2 linked regions of the Homo sapiens genome follow. The protein of the gene in region 2 interacts with the protein of the main gene of each other region in a pairwise test. Each region holds a gene or a part of one and is shown on either strand. Other genes may lie near its edges.

Region 1 (7,000 bases), on a different chromosome or scaffold from region 2:
ATAAGACCCATGGGAACCACAAAATAGAACACCAGCCCCTCACCAGCGGAAGCCACTTCCCGTGGGGCCTGGCACGGGAGGGCGCCCACTGAAACTGCAGCTGGAAACACAGACAAATGGAGGGACAGCAGTCAGGCAGGTGGTCCCCAGGGCGGACCACCACAAACAGGAAGAAGCCGTGTGTTCCAGGCCCCCTGCAGCTCATTTCCATCTGTCAATCTGGTAACCTCCCTGTCTTCCCACAACAGGAGCCTTCTGGGCCAGTCCTGGATGTGTGTCCCTGAATCCCCAATAATGGAGAGAAGGGAGGGGAACTGGCTTGGCTGTCTTGACTCAGCCGGTGGAGAACCCTGGGGAATTCCTCCACTGAGCCAGCAAAGCGGGCCCCACAGGCCACCATTACTCACCAGTCTGTCCCGTTTGGTGGCCCATTCCAAAGACAGCAGCGGTGATTTGGAAATGGAGGATGCTTTGGTCTGCATGATGGGGTTGAAGGACCACACTTTGATGACCCCATCTACGTCTAAGCTGGCGACTCTCCTCCCAGAGCAGTCCACTCTGAGATGAGAGAAAAGGGAGGCCTGTCAGCTGGCCTCTCAGTCCCCATCCTCTTCTGCTAATGCCAAGATGATCACTTTCCTGACTTCCTTACTGTTTTAAAAAAACAATCCCTAGAGGTCTACATTCAAAGGACTGGTATAGACTATTTCTAGAAATATTCATTCATTCGTTTGTCTAAGAAATACTTATTAAGTGCCAACCATGTGCGGAGCTTTTGGTCAATTCTGGGCAAAGAGCCGTGAGCAAGAGTTGCAGGGCCCTGCCCTGAGGCCATTTGCAGTCTCTGGAGATTTAGAGCCTCCAACTCACACTCCAGAACAGCCCAAGGGCCCCAAGAGCCATCAGGGCTGTCAAAACGAGAAACCCATCTACAGCTGAAAATTATGCCCCACCAGGGTTTGTTCTTGAAAGGTTTATACTGTGCTTAAGTAAAAACTTACAAATGGTAAATTACAAATCAGGTATTTACCTAAAAGTACCATCATAAAGCAAATTAAAATTGAGTGAGTTTGGGGGGCTAAAATAAAGTGTAACTTGTTCCTAAAACTGAGAGAAACACAATTAGAAAGGGCAGAGAGGCCCGGTGCGGTGGCTTACGCCTGTAATCCCAGCACTGTGGGAGGCTGAGATGGGCAGATCACTTGAAGCCAGGAGTTCAAGACCAGCCTGGCCAACATGGTGAAACCCCGTCTCTACTACAAATATAAAAATCAGATGGGTGTGGTGGCAGGCATCTGTAATTCCAGCTACTTGGGAGGCTGAGGCACGAGAATCGCTTGAGCCTGGGAGGGCAAGGTTGCAGTGAGCCAAGATCGTGCCACTGCACTCCAGCCTAGGTGACAGAGCAAGACTCTGTCTCAATAAGGAAAAAAAAAAAAGGGCAGACAGGCTGACCAGTCCACTGGCAGCTCCAACCGACTCCCATGACTCTACTGCCATGACTGTGGCCCTCGTCCAAGCCCCCATTCTCCGCCATCTCCTGCTGGCCACACCTCCACGTGTACTGCCTGAAAATCTGAGCTTCCCAGGGTTTCCTTGGCCCCAGGCCCAACCCACCTGCAGTGCATGATGGATGAGTGGTGTTCCCCGTACTCCTCCTGTCCCAGCACAATAAAGGGCTGCTCGGGGCGGACTCCTCCACCCTCAGGGCCTGCCGAGGATGCCCGAGTCAGTGGCTCCACTGGCTCCGTGTGGAGCTCTGGGCAGGGCTCAGCCTCTGGGCCACTGGCTTCTGGTTTCTTCTCTGCACACTGTCACAAGCAGGGTGGGGACAAGTCAGCCAGGAAAGGGTCCCCCACACCAGGGTGTACACCGCAGGGGGTCTAGGCCTAGGCTGCAGCATTTTGCGGGGTTCTCGGTAATTACAGAGTGGAGAGGAGAGCTCTGACCTGCGAGGGTAGTGCTCAGCTCACCCTGGGAGAGTGCAGGGCCTGCCCTCCTGACAGCCCCTTCCTGGAGACTTTGCTCCACACAGGCCCTGCTGAAGGAGAGGGGGCTGTGGCCTCTCTGTGACACAGCTGATGGGACCCAGGACACACATCTGCCTTGACAACAGGCCAGGCGGAGGATGCGTGGTGCAGGCCACACACCGCGCTGAGTATTTTACAGATTTCTCTCATTTAGTCCTCCTCAAACAATGAGATGCTATTATCTTCCCCATTTTACAGCTGTGGAAACTAAAAGACTGAAAGAGAAGCCAAATCCCTTGCCCAAAGTCATATGGCTGGCAAGGGGGAGAAATTGGATGTGAAGCTGGGTGGGTAAGAGGTAAGCCCGGCCCCTTTCCAGTGCACCCCTAGGCCCACCAGCCCTCCTGGGAGGTGGGCACTGAGAAACTAAGAAACAGACACAACTGGCCAGGAAGAAAGACAGAGACCCAAGGGCCACTGGGGGTCCAAGGCTGCCCCATCTCTACGTCCCTGGGACAGCAGGTGTTGGCTACCATCTGGTGCTCACCTAGACACAATCCAGGCTGGGGGCATCGGCCAGGGCACTCTCTACCAGCCCTGGGGTCCGGATGCTCCTGCAAGTGCTTCCTCAGAGAGGCAGGAGGAGGAGTTCAACAATAAAAAAAAATAACAGAGGAACTTCAGACATTATGGGGCTCTGGGTGGCCCCCAAGTGCATCTTGAATCCTGAAATGCCAGAACTTATGATCTGAGCCTTAGGGGTCTGTTGTCACCACAGTACCAGGCTGTTAATGAGGAAATACCTTTAAAACAGGCAAATAGCCCCAATTATGAGATAAATGGTGAAGACAGTGACTTGGGCAAGAGAACCAGTAAATACCTTAGACTTTGCCATCAGTCGGGAGTATCTGGCAGAAACAGAAGCAGCTGTAATGCCACAAAGAGCAGGCTGTGGCCCACACTGGCCAGTGAGGGGAGTCCCCAGAGCCCAGGGCTCAGTACAGAAGGGCCTGGGCCACAGCCTCCCACTGTGTGGGCACATGGCCCTCAGTGCAGCAATACAGGCAGCTGGGCCTCAGGCAGCACAGGAGAAAGGAATCCTGTGACCAAGCAAGTCTGGGTGACTGGGTGAAACCGAGGGAACCAGGTCTCCAGGAGCCCACCACAGGCTGCTTAGCACAATTAACCTAAGGGAAGGATGAGTATGCAAAGGTTCCCAAGCCAGCTTAATCACAGAAGTCATCTTCTGAGAGCACTTCTAGAGGCCTGCATTTTCTGGCCCCTACTTAGGGAAATGCTGCATGGGAGAAATGGACCACAGAAAAGCCAGGCAAATGATGAACCCAAATAACCAAAATACAAGCCATTGAAACCAATTAAGCAAAAGCACACTCTGCACAGCTGCAGAACTCAGAAGAGAGAGAAGAGAAGACCCCCCACAGTGTTCCTCAGTAGCTGCATGAGTGTCCCCAGGGGTGTTCAGGACAACCCCATACCTGGGAAGTGGTTGTGGAGAAAAGCTCCTTCCTCTCCTTGCCATGGTCCTGCAGGCGCCGCTGCCGGTGCTGTGACCAACCGGACTCCCCAGTGGCCAGCCCGCTGAGGAGGCTCTTCCCATCCTTGGCTCCGGACGTCGGGTCCTTTCCCTTGGTGCCCTAGAGGAAAAGAAGCTGGCTGTGAAGTCTCTTCCCATCTGCCCAGGCCATGATAAGCATGCCAGGAGTGGTCAGCCCTGGGCGGGGGGGCGTGGTGGGTTGGGGGCAGGTGGTTAAAATGGTGTTGGCTCAGCTATGTAGGTGAGGTCATAGTCAGCCCCTGCTATGACCTCCTCCTTTCTGTCCTCTACCCGTTAAGAGGACAGGTCACCTGCAATCCTCATCCTGCGGTATCTCTCATCTGGAGGAAGATGTCATCTTGATCTAATCGGAACAATTTAGTCTAGTTGAGGGGAAGGAGCCAGCACTTACTAAGTGATGACTAAGGCAGGCCGGGGCCTACGCTTGGTGTTATACACATTTACAAGCAACAATATGTTTGGGCAATCTAAAAATTATTTATGCAACAAGCAATCACCTCTGGAGGGAAAAGGAAAAGGAACACAGTACCCTCTCTTGTTTTGGGCCAAGTGTGGACTAAACCAGCTAATATTAACAAATACTGAGGTGTTTGAAAATGATTACTAGAAAACCAGAAATTTTTAACAGAAATTGTTGAAAACCCAAGGAATGTTAAGAAAGATAAATCGGACAGGAAATAAACCGGTATTTTCTGGCTCCTTTTCATAACAACAGTGATAGGGTCAGCTAAGTTATAGCAAGAGGGGATGAATTTGATCATCCCCACCCCACCTGTATAGAGAGAAGAAGTCTCCATTCTTAATCTAGAAACTCTTAAAAGGAGCTGCCACCCCCACATCTTTCCAGATTGCTGGGCAGGGCTCTCTTTTTCCAGCTTTTTACCCACAAATTGTGATGGCCAAACACCCTCACCCTCATTTTTTACACTCTTAGCAAAGAGATATGAATGCAAACAGCTACTCAGGTTTGAGACCAATCTTCTCAAGAAACCATTTCTACACAAGCCCTAAGTGAAGAGAAGAAACTCAACCAAAGTCTACCTGCTGCTTTCCAGTTCTTCTACTTGTTATTTTTTATGTCAACAGTAAATAATTTAAAATGATTAACATGGATTCCTTGGAATCCTGCAGCCATGTGAACAGTTAAAAGAAAATTTTAAAGGACTATTAGCTTACCTGGAACCAAACCATGACTAACCTGCAGGGTATTTACTATTTTTGGCCTGTTTATAAACTTCAAGTACTTCCGTGAACAAAGAAAGGATGGTAAACCTGTCTCAATCAGCCACAAACACATTTAATTCCAAGTATCAGAATTGTGTCAATAACAATTGTGTATGGGTCCTGGGAGGACAAAAGCCACGGAGAGGTAATGTCCACTCCTCAGAGTTTCAGAGAGATGGAGTGGGGAGGTGGCCTGTTGGAGTTGGCTGTCAAGGCTAAGATCTGGGGAGGTGGTAGGCAGTTGTGTCGTGTCCTGTTTCAAGACAAGGCTCTGAAACCCCCGTAAGAAGAAATCACTGAAAATGCAAACACTGAGCAGCCACATCACAGTCCAGGAGGTGCCGCTTCCACATTTTGTGCTGCTACATGTATGCCGTGCTCTACATGGGTCACAGGGGGATTCTGCCTTGGAAGCAAAGGTGGGAACTGTTACAGAGGGAGACAGGCACTTTATGGGCCCCTTCCTGCCTTATTCAGCCCCTCCACTGGATAATGGTGTCTTTTCCTTTTTCAGCAACAGTAAAGAGTGCTCAATCAATTGGTGAATATTGATGGAAGGAGGAGGCTTCGAATTCCTCTGGCTTATTTGAAAGCCACTTGTAACACTTCCCCAGCAGGAGCAAACAATAAAACACTGAGAAGTACAAAGGTAATACTTCCCTCACAAGTCAAGATAGCAAGGAAGGCATCTGGTACAGAGAAGAACTACCTTTACAATGATAGGGCAGTTTACGCCAAGACAGTGATGGACCTAAGCATGACCTATCAGATTTTGCTTTAAAGAAGAGGATAGGTTCTCCTTTCTCCTTAAATCTATGTTAATCACTGAATAACAAAAGATAATAATATATTAAAAGCTGGTGAATGCGGTTGTCCACAAAACTTTTTAATAAGTAGGTGAAGGCCAATTTGTGTCTAGCCACAAATGTACAAAACAAGTGAATGCTTACTGGCAACTGTTAATTTTTTAGAAATAAAAGGCTAAAAAATAAAAACAAAGGAAAAAGGGGTAAAGTCACAATGCTATGTAAGTAATTACCTTCAAACAAATCCATAAAACTCTGGCCAAGCACTTGTGTATGGGTAAAGAGCTGGAGAGAGTGAAAGATGCCGGCAGAACTGTGTACTCTCTAGACAATGACACTTGCACACAGAGAAGCTTGCACCCTTCTGGAAGCTTCTTCTACTGTGACCCTACCTTACACATCTTTGTAACCTTAGCACCCAGCACCACGCCTCGCATAAGCTGGGCACTCATTCATGACTGGCTAAATAACAAATGGATGGACTGATGGACAGATGAAATAACTGTTCATTGAAAGTTTTATTTCATTTTAAGTGCAACCCTCATAATAGTCTTTAACTGCTGGCTTCAAATAACAGAATATCCCAATAGTCTAAAGTATATTCTATCATAATCTACCTGACTGCTACAGTTCAGGAGAGACACGGTAACCTCTGTCTTATCATTTGACCTTCTCACTCTGGAGACAGACATAAGTTGATACCCATTAATTTCCGGTGGAATGAGTAGGTCATGAGGGATTCCAGAGCCTCACAGAGCTTACCAGGATGGCAGCCATCCAAATGGAGCAGCAAACAACTTCCAGTAATTTGGTCTCACCTGAAGCTAAACAAAGCTACCCAGAAAACACGCCCTCATAACACAGAAATCCCAGAATGAAAGACAGGCTTTCTCCTTACTGCCAAGATCCTTGGGGAAAACCTTCAGGGCAGTGGTTGTGACCACTTACTTCTCAGTAACTGGGAGGTAATTTGACACTAATAACAGTCACAAGCACAGAAGTTTGTGGATGCTTTGGTGCCTTACATTACAGCCGATTAAAAGTTATCTCTATAATGAGGTAATTTCCATGGCTCACCAAGTGGGTGTGAAAGGAGCAGAATTCTTGCTGGTGGGAAGGATGGAGTACAAACTACAGGCTGTGTGAGCCAAGCAGCAGCCCAGGCAAGCCTGCTATGGATGTGCCCTCCCGGCTATTGTAATTAGAGATCCTAGAAGGGCTTGGGAAGTGTGGTTTCGCAGTTATTTCCACTAAAAAAAAAAAAAAAAAAAAAATTGCCTCCAGACTCATATTGAAAGCCTGGAGAGTATCTGCCAGGCTTTCAATACAAAAGCAATCTATTTTGCATCTGTTTTGCCATCTATTTTACAGGAATAATGCTATGAACGTTTCAGTAATAATGACAACAGGTACAGCAACCAATT
Region 2 (7,587 bases):
TCCTTCAGCACCGCGCCCAGCTGCTGCCACAGAGCAAACACCAGCTCGCGCCCCTGGGCCTCGTCCTCCACACGCCTTGCCTGGTACAGGAGGATGAATCTGTGCAGTGCCGGGAAGTAGGGTGGGAAGGGAACCACGGAGCTGAAGGGGCTGAGAAGCTGGCTTGGGCAGGGTGGGGGCAGGCCCTGGGAGACAGGCCTGTACTCAAACAGTTGGTCCAGCTTGCCCCTCTCTGCTCCCATGGGGACTTCGGGGCCACTCATCTGCAGGAGTGTGTCCAGCACGGGCTGCAAAGACACAGGGACCTCCTTGGGGTGGCGCGTGCAGAGCCCTCGGACAGCCTGGAAGCGTACCCACAAAGGTGCATCGGGCTGCAGCGTCCGCACCCTGGTGGCAAACACCATCTCTGCCAATAGGACACCCAGCGCCTGCATGTCCCTGTGGAGTAGGCACTGCAGTGGCACAGCCGGCTGGACCCGGGGCTGCTCAGGCACCTCCAACAGGCCCCCTAGGCCTTTGGCCAAGAAGTTGCCCGTTTTCTCCAGCTCCTCCAGGGCCTGCATGGGATTGAAGCCCTCGGGAAGAAGAATCCTCCCCTCCTCACCCTCCCCAGGGTCTGCCCCAGCAGCTTTATTCCTGCGGCCTGGACGGGAGGCTGAGGCCACTGAGAAAGAGAGAAGTCCAGGGGACGCTTGACTGGAGGAGCCCAGCTGGTCACCTGCTTTCCCAGCAAGGGAAATGGAATCCAGAGCTTCTGTGGCCTGTTCCAAGTCGTCTTCTCCTGCCACCGGCCTGTCTCTGGTCCAGCTAGCCTCACAGGGAGTGGCCTCTAAAACTGGCCGGCCCACTCCATTTGGAAGCTGTCCCGGGTTTTCCGTGAAGTCCTCCCGGCCTGTGGTCTCCTGGATGGTCTGGACCAACAGCTTGGGGATGAGGGGAGGCTCGGGGGCAAGGGCAGGAGCCCCAGCCAGGCGCTGGGGGTGTGGCTGATCGAAGAGCTGCACCACCCCGTAGCTGGCCAGGTGAGTGTGGGCGTCCACCAGGTGCAGACACACATTCTTTTCCTTGACAGCCTCCTTACCCTGGAGTTTATAGCCAAACGTGAGGTCGATCCAATGGTGCAGGTCCCGGGATACCTCGCGGCTCTCCAGCAGGGCTCGGTGGGCAGCTACGAACTCCTGGCTGGAGCTGCACCAGGCTGGCACATCCAGGTCAGGCATGTCGGGGTGGATGGAGCGGAAGATAGAGGGATCGGTGTAGAACTCCGGAATGCACTCATCCGGGGTCCAGTTCTGCATCCGCTCCATGCTGGCCGGATACTCATGGGGCTCCCACTGCGCGCGGACGTGTCCGCAGAGCACCGACCGAGGCGTGCGCCGAGCCTTGTACACATAGTACGTGATGTCGGAGAGCACGTCTGAGATGTGGTGGGGAACATGAGGGGGTTCCCCGCCGCCCGCCCCGCCTGCTACGAATGCCTGCCGTGTCATCTCATACGTGAAGTCCAGTTGCTTATCCCCCTTGTTGAGGCGGAACTTGGACTTGCGCAGGTCTCGGAAGCGCCCATGGGGCGTAGTGAAGTCCACCACCCAGGGCAGCACGGGGTGGTAGTTGGGGTCCCCCTGCCGCCGACCTGCCAACCGATTCAGCTGCATGAGGTAGTGGAAGTTGCTGATGCGGCCGTGGACCCAATCTAGCACGAGGCTCCGAAGTTCCTCCTGGCCAGTGGGTTGCCCAGGTTGCCCTCCCTGCTCCTCTTGAGACACAATGCCCGCCTCATCCCTTGCCACAGGGGCCTCCTCATTCTCGTCCTCCTCGGGCCTCTCATAAGCACTCAGGTCCAGTCGCAGCTCGCTGCAAAGCTTCTCATCCACTGCGATGTGATACAAAGACAGGGCCCCACACGCCAGCCCCTGGCGGTGACAGGCGTCCATAGCCCTCAGCACGCGGAAGAGAATGAACAGCACCTTGGCCTGGCTGTTGGTCAGCTTGGCAGGGCTGAAGGTGACCACGTCATGTAGGGAGAACTGTACGTAAGGGTGTACCACATACAGCATCTCCGGCGACTCCAGCAAGGCCTCAGCCCGTAAAAGACTAGGGCAAGCAGGGCTGCCCCGAGGGGGGCAGGGGCCTTCTCTGGCATATGAAGGGCATTGGGTAGTTTCACCCACTGGCAGGAAGGAGCAACCATAGACCCTCTGCAGAGCCTGCCGTACTGAGTCCAAGGCAGGGACAGCTGAGGGGGCAGGGCTGTGACTGTACGGCTGGCCGTAAGTGTGGTATGCATGGCGCCACAGGTTGCGATAATTCTGGGCGGCAACCTCCTGCATGAAGCGAGTGAGGGTCTCAGGGCCGCAGGACCCGTCCTCAAAGGGCAGGCCCCCGCCCAGAGGGTAGGACAGTCTCCGCTTCCGCAGCCCATGCACCTCCACGCGCGTCCAGCCGGCAGGCAGCCTTTGCACAGAGCGCTGCAGGAGAGTCCTGACTTCCGCTTCTCCCAGGCCCTCTGCGCGGGGACAGGGTCCCAGGGGCAGCCGGCGATCGCGGAGGCTGGCCAGCCAGCGCGCAGGCACTAGGGCCACCACGTGGGTGCCCCCCGGGGCCGGAGCCAGCTGCCTGGGATCGATGCTCAGGTCCCTCTCCACGCTCCGGAGCAGCTCCTGCATGTCTGGGCTTGGCGGGGAATGCCAGCCCCCGGCCGGGGTTCTGAGAGCGCCTTCCCGCCCCCCGCTGCCCTGGGCCATCTCCTCCAGGCCGCCCGGGGGCAGCGCGGGGCTGAGCCCAGCCACGGCCCTGCTGGCGACGGCTTCCGGGGTGCCAGGCCGGCGGGGCTGGGATGGGCGCGGGACAGGGGCTGGGGCGGAGGCGGCCGCAGGAAGCCGGCGGCGGCGAAGAGGCGGACGGGGGGCGCGCTTACCCCTCCGCGGGTCCTGCGCTCCGGGCGCGGCGGGGCAGAGGCTGCCGGGCGCGAGCACCGGGCTCCACCGTGACGGGTCAGCTGACGCGGGTCACGTGATCGCCCCAGCACGGAAACAAGCGCACGTGGCTCCAGAGGCCCGGGCGGGACCCCGCTTCCTGCCCGGCGGCCTCCCCGCCCTCCCTCCCGCTGCTCCGCTCTGGCTCGGTCTGGGCTCCGCTTCCTCCCGGGGCTGAAAGGGTCTCCAGCCAGCTCCAGCCGGGCCCGGCGGAGGGCGATGCCTACCGCCCCACCCCTCCCTACTCCCTCCAGCACGCACCAGCGCGCGGGTCCCGGAGGCTGTTCCCAGAGATGCCAGCCTCTTAGTTAAGTGCGGACCGCACAACCAGGGGCAGAACTGGGACTTCTGTTGTGTCTATTTTTGAGACGGAGTCTTGCTCTGTCGCCCAGGCTGGAGTGCAGTGGCGCGATCTCGGCTCACCGCAACCTCTGCCTCCCGGGTTCAAGCGATTCTCTTGCCTCGGCCTCCCGAGTAGCTGGGACGTCAGGAGCGCGCCACCACGCCCGGCTAATTTTTGTATTTTTTAGTAGAGATGGGGTTTCGCCTTGTTGGCCAGGCTGATCTCGAACTCCTGGCCTCGTGATCCACCCGTCTCGGCCTCCCAAGGTGCTGGGATGACAGGCGTGAGCCACCGCGCCCGGCCAGAACTGGGACTTTTGACATGGAATCCCCCCGGCGCCTCCATGCCACCTTCCATAGGAAGGAGCTTTTTAACTTTCCTAAGTACTTCAACAGTCACATTCCATTTGGCCCTCGCAACACACTCTGTGAGGTAGGGAGGACAGTTATTACTGTTTATATTTTACAAGTGATAACCAACAACCGCCAGAGAGGCTTGTCCGCCTGGCGGAATGGAGACTTAGAAACTGGTGCCAGCCTTCTTTCTGCCCAGGAGCACTGCCTCCTGACAGCCCTCTCACGGCTTTTTAAAAAACAAAACTGGCCGGGTGCAGTGGCTCACGCCTGTAATCCCAGCACTTTGGGAGGCTGAGGCAGCTGGATCACGAGGTCAGGAGATCGAGACCATCCTGGCTAACACGGTGAAACCCCGTCTCTACTAAAAACACAAAAAATTACCTGGCCGTGGTGGGGGGCGCCTGTAGTCCCAGCTACTTGGGAAGCTGAGGCAGGAGAATGGCATGAACCCAGGAGGCAGAGCTTGCAGTGAGCCGAGATGGCGCCACTGTACTCCAACCTGGGCAACAGAGCGAGACTCCGTCAAAAAGAATAAATAAATAAATAAATAAATAAATAAATAAATAAATAAAAATAAATAAATAAAAATAAAACCAAATAAATAAATAAAAATAAATAAATAAAATAAAATAAAAATAAAACGAAACCCTGGGCTGTCTGAGGGAGAGAAGTGGCCCAGGCCCAGAGGCCTGGTGTTTTGGGGGAAGAAATGTTCCCCCAAGACTTCCTGTTGAAGATTGGCCTCTGCGGTACCACAGAGCCTGCCAGCTGTGGTCAGAGCCTCCAGATGTCACTGTGGCTGGGGGAAGGGTGCGGCACAGGATATGGAATAGAAACCAGACAGCCGGCACCAAAGCAACATGATTCCTCAAGGGGTCTTAGTTCTGACTCATCTGCAGGACAGATAGACCATTGTCTACAGTGAAACCACTGGCCCTGTTTCTTTTGTCTCCCTCTTAGGAGAGAGTTTGCCTCTTGAAGGAGTTTGGTGTACAGGTGTGAGGGTCCCATAAAGACACTTAGGAAAACTAGGCCTTGGCCGGTCACGGTGGTTCACACCTGTAATCCCAGCACTTTGGGAGGCCAAGGTGGGCGGATCATGAGGTCAGGAGTTCAAGACCAGCCCGGCCAACTTGGGGAAACTCCATCTCTACTAAAAACACAAAAAAATTAGCCGGGTGTGGCAGCGGGTGCCTGTAATCCCAGCTACTCAGGAGGCTGAGGCAGGAGAATCGCTTGAACCTGGGAGGCGGAGGTTGCAGTGAGCTGAGATCACACCACTGCACTCCAGCCTGGGTGGCAGAGTGAGACTCCGTCTCAAAAAAAAAAAAAAAGAAAGAAAGAAAAGAAAAGAAAACTAGGCCTGATAGGAGAGAAAATAGGAGGGCCGGGTGCGGTGGCTCATGCCTGTAACCCAGCACTTTGGGAGGCTGAGATGGGCAGATCACCTGAGGTCAGGAGTTCAAGACCAGCCTGACCAACATGGAGAAACCCCATCTCTACTAAAATACAAAAATTAGCCAGGTGTGGTGGCGGACGCCTCTAATTCCAGCTACTTGGGAGGCTGAGGCAGGAGAATCGCTTGAACCCAGGAGGCAGAGGTTGCAGTGAGCCAAGATAGCGCCACTGCACTCCAGCCTGGGCAACAGAGTGAGACTCCATCTCAAAAAAAAAAAAAAAAAGAGAGAGAAAACAGGAATGTCTCAGCCATGATCTGATTTCATCTGTCTCCTCTTCCTTGAAGGGTAGCTGGAGCCTCTCATGTGCTTGGTCATATGATCCTGGGCAGTAGTAACTTACAACAAACTTGTATGGAGCATTACCAGGAGCTAGTCATCTGTTAAGCATTTTGCATACCCTGTTTTGTGTAATCCTCACCACCCCTTTTAAGAAGATTTTTTTTTTTAAGACAGAGTTTCGCTCTTGTTGCCCAGGCTGGAGTGCAATGGCGCGATCTCAGCTCACCGCAATCTCCGCCTCCCGGGTTCAAGCGATTCTCCTGCCTCAGCCTCCCTAGTAGCTGGGATTACAGTCATGTGCCACCATGCCCGGCTAATTTTTGTATTTTAGTAGAGACAGGGTTTCTCCATGTTGGTCAGGCTGGTCTCAAACTCCCGACCTCAGGTGATCTGCCTGCCTTGGCCTTCCAAAGTGCTGGGATTACAGGTGTGAGCCACCGTGCCCGGCCTGATTTTTTTTTTTTTTTTTAAGACAGAGTCTCACTCTGTTGCCCAGGCTAGAATGCAGTAGTGTGATCTTGGCTCCCTGCAGCCTCGACCTTCCAGGCTCAGGTGAACTTCCCACCTCAGCCTCCTGAGTAGCTGGGACTACAGGAATGTGCCACCACATCCAGCTAATTTTTTGTATTTTTGTAGTAACCAGGTTTTGCCATGTTTCCCAGGCTGGTCTTGAACTCCTGGGCTCAAGCAATCGGCCCATCTCGGCCTCTCAAAATGCTGGGATTACAGGTGTGAGCCATGGTGCCCGAGTGATTTTTTATTTATTTTTTTTGACACAGGGTCTCACTCTGTCACCCAGGCTGCAGTGCAGTGATTTGTCACAGCTGACTGCAGCCTCGACCTCCCCAGGCTCAGGTGATCCTCCCACCTCAGCCTCCCGAGTAGTTGAGACTACAGGCAGCGTCACCAAGCCCAGCTAATTTTTTTTTTCGAGACAAAGTTTCGCTCTTGTTGCCCAGGCTGGAGTGCAATGGCACCATCTTGACTCACCACAACCTCCGCCTCCCGGGTTCAAGTGATTCTCCTGCCTCAGCATCCCGAGTAGCTGGGATTATAGGTGCCTGCTACCACGCCTAGCTAAATTTTATATTTTTAGTAGAGCTGGGATTACAGTCGTGAGCCACAGTGCCCAGCCCCAACTTTGATATAAATACCTGAAATCAGAGGATATGTTTTGATGGTTAGAAGGTAGTGCTTGCTTCTTAGTACCAATAGAGCTGGCTGGGTCCACCTGTTCTTTGCGCTGGTCTCAGTTTACCTAGATTGAGCAGGTACTACTTTTTCTGTCTGCAAGTCTGTGTGTGCCCTGCCCTCTAGCGGTACTGGGGTTACACTGCAGCAGTGACCTTGAGTGTACCTAATTTTACCTCTTGAAATTCTCCTTTCCTCCCGAGAATAGAGATGTCCTAGCAATATTGGGAACTGGCGCACTGGGATTCCTGGGGCCTCAAACCCTGGCCCAATCTGAGCCCTAGGGCAGTAGTTTTCAAATTTTAGGGCATAATTCTTTTTTTTTTTTTTTTCTTGATACGGAGTCTGACTCTGTCGCCCAGGCTGGAGTGCTGTGGCACGATCTCGGCTCACTGCAACCTTCACCGCCCAGGTTCAAGCAATTCTCCTGCCTCAGCCTCCCGAGTACCTGGGATTACAGGCGCCTGGCTAACTTTTGTATTTTTAGTAGAGATGGGGTTTCACCATGTTGGCCAGGCTGGTCTCAAATTCCTGACCTCAGATGATCCGCCCGCCTCCGCCTCCCAAAGTGCTGGAATTACAGGCGTGAGCCACCATGCCCGGCCCTTTAGGGCATAATTCTAATTCAGGAGTCTGGAGTGAGATACAGCTATCTAAATGTTTAACAAGTACGCGAGGTAATTCTGATGCAGCAACCTTCAGGCTATGTCTTGAGAAGTAACGTCTGTAACAGCTCTCTTCCGGAATTTCCCTCTCACTGCCCCCAGTAAGCGTGTTCCCTGAATCCCAATGCAAGCACCTTTGGGCTCTGGGGAATCTCAGACCAAATTAGCCGCTCCCCTTGGCCAGCCTCAGTATTGGGTTTCCGGGAGGTCATGTCTTGGATAGTCAGGGACAGAGGCTGCAGCTGCCCCACCAGTCAGCCCATGTTGAGCGGGGTCAGCTCTTGCTAATCCGGCAGGGAGAAAAGTAGTGCACCAGCT

What was found.
Region 1: the proteins of WDR81 (region 2) and WDR91 interact in binary tests that used the Homo sapiens proteins (3 or more experiments, as listed by UniProt).

Annotation. Positions count from the first base shown.
Region 1 is NC_000007.14:135,194,527-135,201,526, forward strand, and holds part of WDR91 (WD repeat-containing protein 91), read right to left. Parts: intron 3,626-7,000; coding exon 3,467-3,625; intron 2,594-3,466; coding exon of another isoform or gene 2,518-2,593; intron 1,812-2,517; coding exon 1,618-1,811; intron 559-1,617; coding exon 408-558; intron 101-407; coding exon of another isoform or gene 44-100; intron 1-43.
Region 2 is NC_000017.11:1,720,117-1,727,703, reverse strand, and holds the start of WDR81 (WD repeat-containing protein 81), read right to left. Parts: upstream 3,001-7,587; 5' UTR 2,745-3,000; coding exon 1-2,744. UniProt on the Homo sapiens protein: Functions as a negative regulator of the PI3 kinase/PI3K activity associated with endosomal membranes via BECN1, a core subunit of the PI3K complex.